Linked DNA regions of Homo sapiens: region 1 is linked to region 2. Evidence: fine-mapped expression QTL. Tissue or cell type: sun-exposed skin. Region 2 holds a variant in brackets; the other region holds the start of a gene. All regions are shown on one strand. Distances are from middle to middle.

Region 1 (7,650 bases), 65 kb after region 2:
CATGAGATTTGATGGTTTTATAAATGGAAGTACCCCTGCACAAATCCTTTTGCCTGATGTCATGTAAGACATGCCTTCGCTCCTCCTTGCCTTCTGCCATGATTGTGAGGTCTGCCCAGCCATGTGGAACTGTGAGTCCACTAAACCTCTTTTTCTTTATAAATTACCCAGTCTTGGGTATGTGTTTACCAGCAGTGTGAAAATGGACTAATACAGCCTCCAAGATGATAAGCCTCCCAAAACTCATCTGTCAACCTTCCTTTGTGTATCCTGTCTTCCCTGGTTTGCCCTTGTAGAGAAGAATCATCCTGGATTACGCTCATGAATATTCAAGTCATGGGAAGAAACACATTCTTATTGTAAAAAATAAAATGATGTCTGGCTTACCTTAGTCTTTTAGTATGTGAGTCTGATGAGTATGAGTTAGTCCCTGAAAATTGAATGCCCTCTGAGTATCCTGGCAAAAGAATTTCTGGCCTTCCAATGCTGAAGACCAATTTGGGCCATGGCGAGGCTGCAGCATAGCTGGCCTTGGAAGCCTGGTTTGTAGGTTGGTTGGAATCATAGCATCTTCATGATGTCTTTTGATGACTGCAACATGGTTTTATTCCTCATGATTAAGCAGAGAATATGTCCAAGGTCACTTGCCCATTGAAGTTGCTGGGTACAAAAAGGCAAATACAGAAATTGTGCTCTGGAAAGTGGATGTGGGCTATCAAACCTAGGCTATCAATCGAGGGATTCAGTGAGCAGTTTGTCTAGAGGACAAGAGCTGGAAATTTTTGTCTTAATTATCATATAATCTAACAAAGGCAAAAATCAACATACAAGTACCTGAGCATATTTATTCACAAGGGCATTGTAGTTAGGATAGGTTAGATTTATGCTTAGGCAACCATTCCCAAATTTCCATGGCTTAACACGGAAAAATGTATTCCTGTTCCACAGACTCTACTTAAGTTTGGGAAATACAGAAGGAGGGAGGGCTCTGCTTCACTAATTTACTCAAGGACATGGCTGGGAAGACTCCACCATTTGGAATGTCAGTGGTTGCCACAACAAGGAAAAAGATAAATTGGAAGATCATGTTAGGGCTTTTCAAACCTCATTTCTTGTAACATTTCATTAGCTAGATCAAGAGTCTTGTAGCCCACCTATTTCAAGGAGGCTTGGAAAGGTCTTTTGTGTCTCTGCCACAGGCATACCTAAGAGCGTGGGTAGCTGAGGCAGCATCTCAGACATGCTGGCAGCAGACGATGGGGGTGGGAAAGAGTCCTAGCTTCAGAGAAACGGAGTACAGCGTGTCTGCTCCCTGATAGGATGCCCTGTTCTCTGTCTGAGGTAGCCCAGTGTTTTACTAATATTGGGAAGGTGAGTGGCATTTTCCAATTGAATAGATAGGACACTCTCCTATTAAGATTCTATTAAGACAAGCCAGGGAGCTGCCTCCCTGCAGCCATTTATATCTAAGCATTTCACAAACACAGAGTAATTCCTCCCCCATGACTCTGTCTCTATGGAGAATTTTAAGACCCTAGTTCTGAAAAGCATCCTGCAAGAGGGAAGATGGGTTGTAATATTTCCAGACCCTCTTGCCATTGTTGTTAGGGTCTCTTGAGTTTAGGGACTACACTGAACCACAGGTTGTTTAACATAAATAACTTGACCCATGCTAACTTCAATTATCCTGGTCTCCTGCCTCAATTTCCAAGAGAGCCACTCCCTCTGTTCATATGCCAAATAAGGAAACCAGAGAATGAGGGGGTCAGGAAAGGAGTGGGGGGCAGTAGAGAAGTGGCCTAGATGATTCTAGAGATAGCATGCCAGTGGGTGTGCTTCACAAGCTTCCCGCAAACTTCTTGAAAGTTGGATGGAGCTGGATTCATTTGAAAAGGCTGGCATGAGATGGACAGAGAGGAAATTGTGGGGGAATGGAGGACTCTTAAGATCTTTATCCTTTGGGGTAAGGGGAGAGAAAGGAATCCACTAGTGGTTTGGAATAGTCATGAATTAAATCACATATTTCCATGAAACAAGCCTGACAAAGCCTTAGCAAAGCTGGTAGGGGACTCTGGAGTGATAATTGCTCATCAGAGTTTTCCCCCATCAGGGCAAACTGGCCAGGCCCTCACCACCCTCAGTCACTGAATGTGGGATGTGGCTGCTTTGGGAAGGACGTGACCTCATGCAAGCACTCCTTGCAGCTGAGCATCCACTTATACCTTGAAGGGGGATCTAGGAAGCACATAGCCATATGTATGACAAACTTTGTGCCGATAGCTCTCTCTTTGTTTTGGATTTTTACCTTTAGACAAACACAGTGGTCCCCCCAGGTTTTAGAGTTAGACTGTTTGGAAACTCCTGCAAATATTTCTGGCTTGGATGGAAAGCCTGGAGTGTAATCAGCTTAGCTGGTGACCCATTTCCCCCCTCACTGGTTAGCTAAGCGGATTTTCTTTCCTGAGGCCTTTTGTAGGGTACAATGTATATCATGAGTCTTAAAGGAACTCATGGAATTTCAATATTCAACTGGAAGTGCCCTAGTTAATAGAGATGTAGACTTTTCGGATCTTAAAGAGTTTGTCAGTGGGAGGAGGATTAATGGGCACCAACTGTGTGCTAGGTGTTGTATTTAACATAATCTCAAACTTTTCTAAAAATATGGCTGGATGCAATGGCTTGCACCTGTAATCCCAGTTACTTGGGAGGCTGAGAAGTTTGAGACCAGCCTGGGCAACAGAGTGAGACCCTGTCTCTGAAAAAATACAAAAATTAAAAAATAATGAGAAATAAATTCCTGGAAACACTATGAGGTATTTGTTAATATTCTCATGATACAGAAAAGACTCACAGAGATTAAATTACATTCCAAAGATCTCAAGATTCAGAAGCACAAACAAGAGAGAAGACTCCTTGGGACAGGGTCTATAATAGGTTTGCCCTTGACCCTGTTCCTTTCATTGGGCAAGAGTATAGCTTAAAGCAAATGACCAGTAAATATTTGTGGAATAAATGAAGAGTGAAAGAGCAAGCATATAAAATTGTATACATCTCTTTTTAAAATGTAGGTTGCCCATTTTGATGAAGTGAAATGCACAGTATTAAGGAAAGGTTGTGAAGTCCAAGAAAACAATCTTTTGGTTTAATCAGAAAATACCATCTTGTATTTGAAACTGGTGACCCAAGCTGCAGAAGCAGCTGTCTTGATGCAGTAGGAGCATGACTACACCACCCGTGGTGTTGGGAAGAGAACAAATGATAGGAATGAACACAGAATTACTTTGTTACTCATCACCTATTTTCACTTTGAGAAAATGATTGGAAATTCTAGGTTTCAGGAATCAACTGCAAATGATGAAGCATTAGATGGATTCTGGCCACATCCCCTGAACAGTGGTGCTCAGAATAGCACTGCCTGCTTGTTTCTCAGACTTCTGTTTAAGACTCTAAGAAATGTAGAATCTGTATGGAATTGGACATCTGACTTGGAGTTTGCTTTTCAGACTCAAGAATTACACAAATGTTGAATTTCCTGACCCTAGTTAAGAGACATTGATCCCCCTTCGTGTGTTCTGACTGAACTTGTGGTCTGGGCTGTAACAGACCTCAGAGCTCCCATGGGCTTTCCTGCTGCTGTGTGACTTACATCATCATGGATTACCAATAATAGGATTTGCCACTCGGAAGCTGGGGCGATACTTATTCAAAACTCACAACGTATTTTCTTACAGAGAAATATGGCTTCAGTTTTTCATTACTTCCTGTTAGTTCTGGTCTTTCTGGATACACACGCAGCTCAGCCTTTCTGTCTGCCAGGATGCACTTGCTCAGAGGAGAGTTTTGGCAGGTGCGCTCTGCTGGCCAGATGTTAGAGGGTTATGGGGAATGGGTTTTCTTTGGGGATGATGTGGAGTGGAAGCAGGCTTAGAATTGGCAGGAAATCAGCAAAACTCTATGAGACTCATTCTAGTTGGGACTGAACTTTGCTGAACTGTGCATTTTTACCAAAATGAGTCTAACTCTTTTATTTCAATGAATAATAATATTTTTATTCTGATTCACATGTCTAATGCCAGGATCAGCCTGACCCCACTTTTCAGTCCCCTGTTGTTTATCTTAAAGCTGTTCTGGTTTCTTGTACAGGACTCTGCAGTGCACATCTGTCTCCTTGGGAAAGATCCCTGGGAACCTTTCTGAAGAGTTCAAGCAAGTGAGAATTGAAAATTCACCCTTATTTGAGATGCCCCAAGGGTCTTTCATCAACATGAGCACCTTGGAATACCTCTGGCTCAATTTTAACAATATCAGTGTGATCCACCTAGGAGCCCTGGAACACCTGCCAGAACTGAGGGAGCTGAGACTGGAGGGGAACAAGCTCTGCTCAGTACCATGGACAGCGTTCCGTGCCACCCCTCTCCTGAGGGTCTTGGATCTCAAACGCAACAAGATTGATGCACTCCCTGAGCTGGCTCTTCAATTCTTGGTCAGCCTGACCTACCTTGACCTATCCTCCAATAGGCTTACAGTTGTATCCAAGAGTGTCTTCCTGAACTGGCCAGCCTACCAGAAATGCCGGCAGCCTGACTGTGGGGCTGAGATTCTCTCCAGCCTGGTGGTGGCCCTGCATGACAACCCCTGGGTATGTGACTGTCGCCTAAGGGGGCTTGTCCAGTTTGTCAAGTCCATTACCCTCCCAGTCATCCTGGTGAATTCCTACCTGATATGTCAGGGCCCTCTGTCCAAGGCAGGGCAGCTTTTTCATGAAACTGAGCTTAGTGCTTGCATGAAGCCACAGATCTCAACCCCCAGTGCCAATATCACCATCCGGGCAGGACAGAATGTGACCCTGCGATGCTTGGCACAGGCCAGCCCCTCACCATCCATTGCATGGACTTATCCCCTGAGTATGTGGAGAGAATTTGATGGTAAGCCACATGCACCCTCTCAGTGTATCTGGAGGGAATGGAGAGGTCTGTAGCAAACCCATCCTCATTAGAGAGATTCAAAGCTGGGTCAGTCACGAAGGGTGGGTGCAAGTAAGATTGGGATAGCCCTGAATTATGCTCACTAGAACAGAAAAGATTTCAAGGTAGTGTTCCACTATTGGCATTATTTTAAATGTTTGCATACAGATCTCTTTGCATACAGAACATATACACATATATAAACACATATTTCAGGGCTAATTTAATATCTTATGCAAATATTATAAAATTTTATATGAGCAGATATAGTCTTTGGGAATCTTCTAGATGCAAAACACTGGACTATGTATTTTAGAATTCTAGAATTTTTTACTAGGATTGATTTTAGAGATGATCTATTAGTTATTTCCTTAACTTGCCTGAGCAGAATCACCTGGGGTGCTTGTTTGAAATAACACTGACATAAAATTGTTCAGACCTTATTGGCTTGAATTTGTAATACTGGGACCCAGGGAAAGGAAGTGACCTCTGTGGGCCCTGGGGCTGGAATTCAAACCTGCCTCTTCCTTCCTGGAACCCTCTGCTCTGTTTTCATACCTCAGCTGGGATTACCTTTAATGCTACTCTGTAGGGTTGGGCATATCACAAAGCCGGGGATGGCCTCCCTGGGGGTATCCCAAAGCTGAAAAGAAAAATCTTCGTACATTCCTCGTGTCCTGTCTTCTGTTCTCTGTCTAGAAGACAACTAGGAATAGCTGGGTAAAACTTGGGAAATATAGTCATTTGCCCAGGTATTTGTTATACATTATGACAAAACTCTGGATGGTTTAAAAATACCCAATTAACTGAATTTTCACATTCTGTATTGTTTTGATAATACCTTATTGGTTTGGCATTCAATATCAATGAAAGAAAATTATAGGATTTATTGTTGTAGCCTCTTTGAAAACCAAGAAATGCATACAGGTGTTGTCTTTCGTGGTGTTCTATAATCACTGTTTGGCAACGTGTTATATAATCTCTCAGTAAAAATATAAGCATTGAACACTTACTTTCAAACTAATGAGGTAGGTGATTGCTTATCATCCCATTTTATTGACAAGAAAATTGTCAAGAGAATTTAAGCAACTTGCCCAGTACCACACTGGATAGGAGCTCCATTAGGGATAGCAGCCCAGGCATGTGGCTCCAGGCTCTGAGGAACTGTGCATCTGGAAGGTAAGAAGGCACTTCCTGAAGCTCATAATATCGTACAATCACATAGTTGCAAGAACTCTCCTGAAAGCCATGGCTCAGCAAGGCGAAGGTGGTTTGGTGGGTGCAGTTAGTGAAGTTGAAAGAGTATGGTCTTCATAGATTGAAGAGCCAGGTCCCATATCAATTGTTGCTTCTGAACAACTCTCACTACGGGCAAGTTGATGGATTGCTCCAATCCTCAATATCCTATGTGTAAAGATCAGTTATTTATCTTACAGGATTGCTGGGAGGCAAACACCTGACACCAGGTACGAGGTTCATAAGAGGTTACCACCATCTTCTAACAACAACAATAACAAAAAACAAAGCAAAACAAAACAAAACTGGCATTGCTAGACACTTTCCAGCAGTCTATCAGATAAATGCACAGCTGTTTTGTTTTTCTTTCCACCCAGTGTTGACATCTTCTACTGGAGAAGACACTGCTCTGTCAGAGCTGGCCATACCTGCTGCCCACCTGGTAGACAGTGGTAATTACACCTGCATGGCCTCCAACTCCATTGGCAAGAGCAACCTTGTAATCTCTCTCCATGTCCAGCCTGCCCAGGCCCTACATGCACCTGATTCTCTTTCCATCCCCTCGGAGGGCAATGCCTACATTGACCTGCGGGTTGTCAAGCAGACAGTGCATGGGATTTTGCTGGAGTGGCTTGCAGTGGCTGACACCTCTAAGGAGGAGTGGTTCACCCTCTACATTGCATCGGATGAAGCCTTCAGGAAGGAGGTGGTTCACATTGGCCCCGGAATCAATACTTATGCTGTGGATGACCTCCTTCCTGGCACAAAATATGAGGCCTGCCTCAGCCTAGAGGGCCAGCCTCCACACCAGGGCCAGTGTGTAGCTTTTGTAACAGGCAGAGATGCTGGTGGGCTAGAGGCACGTGAGCACCTCCTGCATGTCACAGTGGTCCTGTGTGTGGTGCTGCTTGCAGTGCCTGTGGGCGCCTATGCCTGGGCAGCCCAGGGCCCCTGCAGCTGCAGCAAGTGGGTCCTGCGCGGCTGTCTTCATCGCAGGAAAGCCCCCAGCTGCACCCCTGCAGCCCCGCAGTCCAAGGATGGCTCCTTTAGAGAACATCCAGCTGTCTGTGATGACGGTGAAGGGCACATAGACACTGAGGGGGACAAGGAGAAAGGAGGAACGGAAGACAACAGCTGAACAACCCAGGCCATGGGGTGGAAACGGCTTGGGCTTCAAGCCTCTGAAACCAACCCTCTGCAGCAGCTCCATCCATTTATCCAGCAAGTATATATTGAGCACCCACTGTGTTCCAAGCACTGAACTTGACACAGGGGGTTCAAGAGTAAAAAGGGAAACAGAGTCTTTATCTTCATGATAAAGGGGACATAGTCATTATCTTCGTAAAGTTAAAGTCAATGAAGATTTGTCCATCAAATTAATCATTTTATTATACATGGTGATTAGAAATCACTAAATATTACTCTTTGCATATACTTAGCCTATAACATT
Region 2 (7,650 bases):
ATAATTTCTCTTTAATAATACAGACCCTATACCTAATGCCAGTAACTATAAGGACTTTATAATACTCCAGAGTCAGACTCAATTTCTCATCTGGCTGCTGCCTCCTGTGTTCCCACAGCAATCTGAAGTACTGAAGTCAAAAACAGCACATGGGCCTTGCAGCATCTGGGGTGCAGCAAGCAGGGTGAAGGGGGAGACTGCCTTAGAATGGAGGGTGGCAGCTCCAAGGAATGGGAAAGCTTCTCAATCCCTTTGGTCTAAGTGGGAAAACAAAAGAGCTGGCAGCAATCTGGGGTGAGTTAGGGCCCAGGAGCTAAAAAGCAGGCCGGTTTCATGATAACGAGCTTCTTTTTTGTGTAGGATGACTGTAGCAAGTTTATCTGCAAGACCCACAGGGACCTCAGCAATGACACATTGTGGGATAGATTGGGAAGCCAGATTAGGTAATCACAGAGCTGGAGCACCTCTCTAAGAACCAGCTGGGGCTCTGCAGGGGTGTGACAAGTGCTCATCCGGATGAGGGACTCACAGAGACAACTGGCACATTAAACAGATTGCACTGTCATCTTCCTGACAGCACGCCCACAAAGGACCATGCTCAGCTGTCATCTTCAAGTGTGGGAGCAGCTTCCCTCCAAGCCCTGGGCAAGAGGCCACAAGATCCAGGTGGGGACCCAGCCTCAGACAAGTGTCCAGTAGTGGAAACTAGTAGAAAACCAGGACAGATGGGCAGGGACAACAGGGCAGAGAAGGTGAGGCCTGAGGCTTGGTGGGTACCCCAAAAGAGGTTTGGCTTGGTACAGATCATGAGTTGAGGCCATGATATCCTCCTGTCTGGTAAGGAATGGTTCCAGACATGGCTGGAGTTGCTGCTTCTGAGGAGTGTCATGAAGACTGCAACAGGGAAGGCTTGGGGCCCTGAGGCCAAGTCCGTCATGTCATTCCAGCTCCCCTTCAGGGAATGTGGAGATACACTAAAGGAATGTCTCTCTTTTATTGTTGAAAATGTGCACCTTTTCCTTCAGAGGCCTGCATCACTGCACAGAAATAATAATAATAATAAAACTACCTAAAGTTTGTTGAATAATTTCCTTAGGGAAAGCACATGACATACATAATTGCATGTAAACAACCTTATAGTTCCCATTTTAAAGCTACAAAACCCACCGGGCACAGTGGCTCACCCCTGTAATCCCAGCACTTTAGGAGGCCGAGGCAGGTGTATCATGAGGTCAGGAGTTCAAGACCAGCCTGGCCAACATAGTGAAACCCCCTCTCTACTAAAAATACAAAAATTAGCCAGGCATGGTGGCAGGCGCCTGTAATCCCAGCTACTCGGGAGGCTGAGGCAGGGAATTGCTTGAACCTGGGAGGCAGAAGTTGCAGTGAGCTGAGATTGCACCACTGCACTCCAGCCTGGGCAACAGAGCGAGACGCCATCTCAAAACAAAAACAAAAACAGAAAAAAAAAACCTGAGGCTTATGGAGTTAGTGCCCCCAAATAACACAGCTGAAAACTTAAGTTTAGCACAGTGAAAACTTAATGCAAATGTAGGCAATCTGAGTCAATACTTAACCACCATGTTATTATCTTAGCATAAAAGTTCATTCTAAAGTATGCTGACCTGACCACATCTCAGGCATACTGAGATTACTGACAGTAGCTTTAGGACCAAATGACCAGGAGCCTAAATTTGCCTCTGCTATTTCCTGGCTGAGTGACCTCAACATGCACTGCTTATTGGCAATAAGAGTCAGATTCTTCATCTATAAAATGAGGATGGCAATGTATGTAGTATGTAGTAATCATCCGATATGATTACTTTCTGGTTTGAAACCCATCTTGAAGCCAGGCCTGAGATGTGGTTAGGTGAGGGCCCCATTCTGTTCATTGGGGACCTTACCACACACAAGGGGATCTCTAGGTTGGCATAGTCATTTCCTCAGGACATTACCAGCCTAAGTCCTCATCTTCTGGAACAGTCTCACTTTCTCCCACTGAGTAGGAATGTAGCTATTTGTATTCTCTTTCTAGAAGCAAGAGGACCTCTTCTGAAGGGTGAAGAGGAGGTATGAAGACATCAGCATCACCTGGATTCAAAGAAGAGAACTGACCATAATAAATTAGAAAACAATTTGTATTACCTGCTTCAAATACTCTTTAGACAGGTTGATAGTCCAAAGTGTTGTTGACATTTTGGAAATAGTAGCATCCAACGTGTGTAAGGAGCTGGGCTTTAGAATGAAAGATCTAGAATTAAATTCTTTTCCCACTGCTGATTAGCTGGGTGGCCTTCAGGGAGTTGCTTAAATTCTCCATGCCTCAGGTTCTTTGTCAGTAAGGAAAATGCTGCATTGGGTTGTGACTAAAAACAAAATGATATTTATAAAGCAACTATCCTGGTGATGAACACAGAATGCAAGTTCTATCAATGTCCATTCTTTTCTTCTTCTTTGTTAAAAAGGTATATGTGTGTAAAGACAACTCACATCAGGCTAGAAAGCCTTGGTTGATTGAAGTTTCATTTCATTTTAAGAGATTTCTTTTTCCTGGGGATCTCCAACTCTGCTAGAAAGCTTATAAGTCCACATGCTGCTGGTGGGCTGAAGTCAGAGCCCTTCTAAGGACACCAATGGGATCATTCAGCACTAGGACTAGGACAGCACTGGCTCTCTGGGTTTCCCTGTTCCAATTCTGTGGCACAACTTCTGGCCATGGTGCTGAAAGACACTTTTCTTGATTTCTTAACTACTTTCCCTTCTCTCCACTTCATTCAGTCACAGGGTGGCTCATGGTCTTGTGGGCAGCCTGGGCTGGCCCCTGGTGAGTCCCCATACATAAGCCTCACAGCTCTTCACTGGAGCCTTTTGCCCAACTTAGGAAGACGAAGAATTGAGGTTGGAAAATAGGAGACAGGTCAGTTCCAACAATTTCTGATTCAGTGTTCATTCTAATGAACAGCTCCCTGCTCAGAAATGTAATAACAATGCTGATAGTTAGCATTCATTTAGTCCCTACTGCTTTGCCTGTATTATTAAATTAAGTAATGATATCTTATAAGCAACTCTGGCCTGATATATAGTAAGTACTTATAACTGTTGTTTTTGCTATTGTTATTTTCACTTAATTCTCTCAAATCTCTGATGAGCAGAAATTGCCATCCTCATTTTACAGATGAAGAATCTGACACTTATTGCCAATAAGCAGTACCTATTGAGGTCACTCAGCCAGAAAACAGCATAGGCAAAATTATGTTCCTGGTCATTTGGTCCTAAAGCTATTGTCAAAACATTACACTACCTCTGAAGATCCTTCTGGCCAAACAGGCAGA[G/C]GTCAGTATGATTACTTGACCCAATCTATTTCTTCTGAGCTCAATTCAGTGGTGCGTTGGGGCTCATATGAGCTTGCAAGAACCAATTGTGTGCATTTCTTCCCAACTCTGTGTTGGTAGCATGATGTCAACCAGTGGGAATATTTGCACCACACAACTAGGTAAACACTGCAAATCAGGGCTTTCTAAATTTTTCTGGAGATATGGATTAGCAGTACTTAACTAGCCAGGATTATTAAACTAAGACATGGGTAATGTCAAGGACTATCATATATGCCTGTGGATTTTAGTCTATGGTTTTCTGACTACATATATACCATGAGAGAGAAATGGGATTCAACACAATTGGTGTTATTTATTTCTGCATAACAAATTACTCTGAAATTCAGTGGCTTAAATAACAATAAATATGTATTATCTCTCAGAGTTTCTTTGGGCCAGGAATTTGGAAGAGACTTAGTTGGCTCTGTTGGATGGTTCTGGCTTGGAGTCTCTTATGAAATAGCAGGCAAAATGCCAGCTGGGCCTCCAGTCACCTGAACAAAGTTGTGCCACTCACATGGTCGGCAAATTCGTGGTGGCTATTGTCAGGAAGCCTCAAGTCCCAATCACATGGACTTCACAGAGGGCCACTTGAATGTTTTCACAATGTGAAAAGATAAACAACAGCCTTCTCCAGGGTGAATAATCTGAGAGAGCGAGGTAAAAGCTGCAACATCTTTTATGAACATCAAATTCTGCCATTTCCATAATATCCTACTGGTCACACATCAGCCCTATTCTGTGCAAGAGATAACTACACAAGGGCATGAATAGCAGGAGATGAGAATCATTGGAGGAATCTTGAAAGCTGACTACCATGATTGTACAGAGAAATTGTGATTCCTTCATCCTTCAGGGCTGACAGCAAATAATTTTCTCCTAAATCCCATGCCACTTGCCTGACAGCTGTAGCACAAAGTTTTTTTTTCTAAGCAATGAAGAATGATGGCTATTGGATAAGAAAACAAATGACAGTGTCTACCCCAACATTATACACTCCCCAGATAAGAAACTCTTCTTGTACTCACCATACAATTAGCCTCTACATGTTTGCTCTCAGCTTATTAACCAGAATAAATTCCTCTTGTGTCTTTTTTGCTTGGTTTGCACAAGCCATCTTTGTGTCTCTCTGATTGAATAGACATCCTTTTCATGGGGTGGGGCTGAAACCAAGAATTAATCTCTGGGCATTGAGTAAAGGGGAAAATGAAGCTGATACGGAAAATTAAGTTAGTTTCTTTGGCTCTGAGAAGATAAGGGCAGATGATGCCTCTATCCCAATTGGCCTGATCACAGGTGCATTATTCTGAAGCTGCTGCTTACTGAGTTAGTGTCCAGGCTGAAGGAGAATGTGTATGACTCCTCTAAAGGCAGTTGTCTCTGGAAGTATCTGAAACATTTTAGTACAGTGTACAGTGAAGGAAAGAGAGGGGAAAGCCGTTTTACAACACAAAGTGTTTATGATTATTAACATTTGATTTCTTCATAATTTAAATGGTGCAGTAAGTTCAAAAAAAGAAAAATATTGTTGCCTTGACTTAGCAGATTGTGTTTTTCACTCAAAACTTTAGTATGAAGAGCTCAAAATAGTAACTAGTTAACACATCTTCACCTTGTAAAAAGGCTTGGATAAAGCAGACACTACGAACTCTCATCCTTATTCCTTCTAACCTCCAAATTGAATGTGCATAAATCCAAGGGTTCTCAAATAGAAAACATATGTTTCTTATAACTGAGATAGCTGAGTCTGGGATAAAATGCTTTGAATGTAGCATTTCTTATTAATTAGATTAATTGTCAGGTCCACCTATAATCTGTGTTTTGTGTAGAAAATCACACCAAGCCCAAGGCATGCCAGACTTACCTGAACCATTTGTGATGGAATCACCAGATAAGCAGATTAAAGAACTACTCAGACTGTGGTATCTGGACTTCTGAAAGATACACGATGAATGTCTTATTACCAGTAGGACAAAAGTGAGGAATGGGGGCTGGATAGCAATATTTTAGAGACAGTCATATAATTGGTTGTCTTGAAGGGGTCCCAAATGACAATCTCTATTGACCTGAAGTGAGTTTCCCTTTCTTCATCCTAGAAGAATTAATATATTCTTGTCAAAATTCTTACCTGTAGTAGTCAGGGTTCAATTAGAGAAGCAAACCACTGGGATATTACATATACCAGTGCTTTGTTAGTAGGATTCGGCCTTACATAGGCTGGTAAGATATTTAACCACCTTAGAAGCTGGTTAAATAGTCTCTATAGGGCTGTCGTCTTCATATCTGATGCTGAACCATGAAGTCCTCAGGGCAGGCTGGGAAGGGAAGGGAAGATGATTGCAAAGTGGTAGAGAGCAAGGACAAGCTGGAGATGACAAGCATGAGCTGAAATGAACACAGAAGGACTGGAACCCATGTTAGTATTGCACTGCCTCCAATTTTAAATATACGGTGTCTTGTAAGAAAAGCAGATAAACACATAACTTACCCATGAGTGGAGAAGCTGAAGTACAAATTCAGGGGAGGATGGAGCAGCTGCAAGCCTGGCTGGCATCCCATGCCAACAAGGTGACCCAGTAGATAAGTGACAAGGTGACTGAGCTGCCTGGTGCTCTTGCATAGAATTTTCAAGTGTTAGAAAAATGTCTCCATGCCTTGCAATTTGTCTCTTGTGGCCAAGCCTAACTGAAAACAAACAGGAAAGGGATTCTAGGAAATCTGCTTCCACCTAGCCAAGCTGACATGTTACTAAGCCACCACATCACTTCACAGGCTAAAGCATTAGGTTCCTGGTGCAAGGTCCTGCTCTTCGCTCTATCAGCTGTCCATAAATCTGATGACTTCAGCATCCAATATCTGCGACTCTTGTTTCCTTGACCTCCTTATTACCAGTGAACTCCTTGTCCACTCCACCTCACCCATGACTTGCATAGTCATCCTTGACCTTATGTCCCCTCCAAGATGGTCCATCTTCATAGTCTAATTAAAATTTCATTCTCCCTGACTGCTCCTTTCCAACCAGCTTGCATGCTCACTTACCCCACTCTGTGTTTTTACTTCATTAGGATTTCTAGTCTGTTGACTCTTGCTTTCATCCAAAGCATCACCTCTTTCTCTTCATTATCCTCCTCAGTCAGACTAGATTCTCAACACTGTCACTTTAATGGCCCTAAACCTTATTTTTCTTTTTTTCTTTTCTCATGGTCATCAACGAAACCCCACCTCTGGATGACCCCACATAATTTCCTCTCAAGGCCTTACCTGAGCAGCCAAGAAGTGCTAGAGGAACTTAAACAACAGGACTATAATCACTTATCTCAAATGGTCATGGCTACTGTCCCGAGCTTCTCCTACTACACTTTCCAGTCAACTTATATTTTTATATGAAACAAAATATATAATTGTATTAATTTATGTGTGGAAAAACAATTATAGATTCACATGCAGCTGTAAGAAATAATACAGAGATCCAGGCAGGGCGCAATGGCTCATGTCTGTAATCCCAGCACTTTGGGAGGCTGAGGTGGGCGAATCACTTGAAGTCAGGAGTTCGAGACCAGCCTGGCCAACATGGTGAAACAAACCCTGTCTGTACTAAAAATGCAAAAATTAGCTGAATGTGGTGGTGCATGCCTGTAGTCCCAGCTACTTGGGAGGCTGAGGCAGGAGAATGGCCTGAATCCAGGAGGCGGAGGTTGCAGTGGGCCAAGATCGCACCATTGCACTCCAGCCTGGGCGACAGAGCAAATCTGTGTCTCAAAAAAAAAAAAAAAGAAAGAAAGAAAAATAATACAGAGATCCTTTGCATAGTTTTCCCAGTTTCCTCTAATGGTAATATTTTGCAGAGTTATAGCATAATATGACAACAAGAATACTAACATGGATATAATTCACTGATCTTATGCAGATTTCCATTTTACTTGTCCTCATTTGTGTGTGTAAATTCTATACAATTTTATCATCTGTGTAGGTTCATGTATTCTTTATCATAACAAAGATACTAAACAACTGTAACAGCACAAGGATTCATTATGTATTCTTTTATAGTCACCCCCACCTTCCTCCCACCCCTACTCCATCCCTAACTCCAGAAAAATCCTAATCTGTCTTCCATTTCTAAAATTTTATCATTTCACAAATGATATATAAATGGACTCATTCAGTATGTAACCTTTTGTTACAGGGATTTTTTTCTCAGTATAAGTTTCTGGAGATTCATCCAGGTTGTTGTGTATATCAATAGTTCATTCTTTTTGATTACTGAATACTATTCCAT

Evidence for each region. PIP is the estimated chance that this variant, and not a neighbour inherited with it, causes the effect.
Region 1: it holds the start of LRIT2, and the variant in region 2 is the best candidate, but not a certain one, in a credible set for the expression of LRIT2 in sun-exposed skin (GTEx, PIP 0.52).

The regions. Positions count from the first base shown.
Region 1 is chr10:84,221,608-84,229,257 of GRCh38, reverse strand. LRIT2 (leucine rich repeat, Ig-like and transmembrane domains 2) reads left to right here and starts at 3,714. Exons shown (of 3, transcript NM_001017924.5): 1 at 3,714-3,847; 2 at 4,144-4,925; 3 at 6,578-7,650. The coding sequence starts at 3,738. The coding sequence ends at 7,338.
Region 2 is chr10:84,286,633-84,294,282 of GRCh38, reverse strand. LINC00858 (long intergenic non-protein coding RNA 858) reads right to left here. Exons shown (of 6, transcript NR_038220.1): 2 at 5,863-6,059; 3 at 5,503-5,689; 4 at 5,239-5,308; 5 at 2,146-2,876; 6 at 1-1,037. Among named protein-coding and RNA genes, the nearest start is that of LINC00858, 10 kb to the right of the region's middle. The variant G/C (reference allele first, on the strand shown) is at 3,333.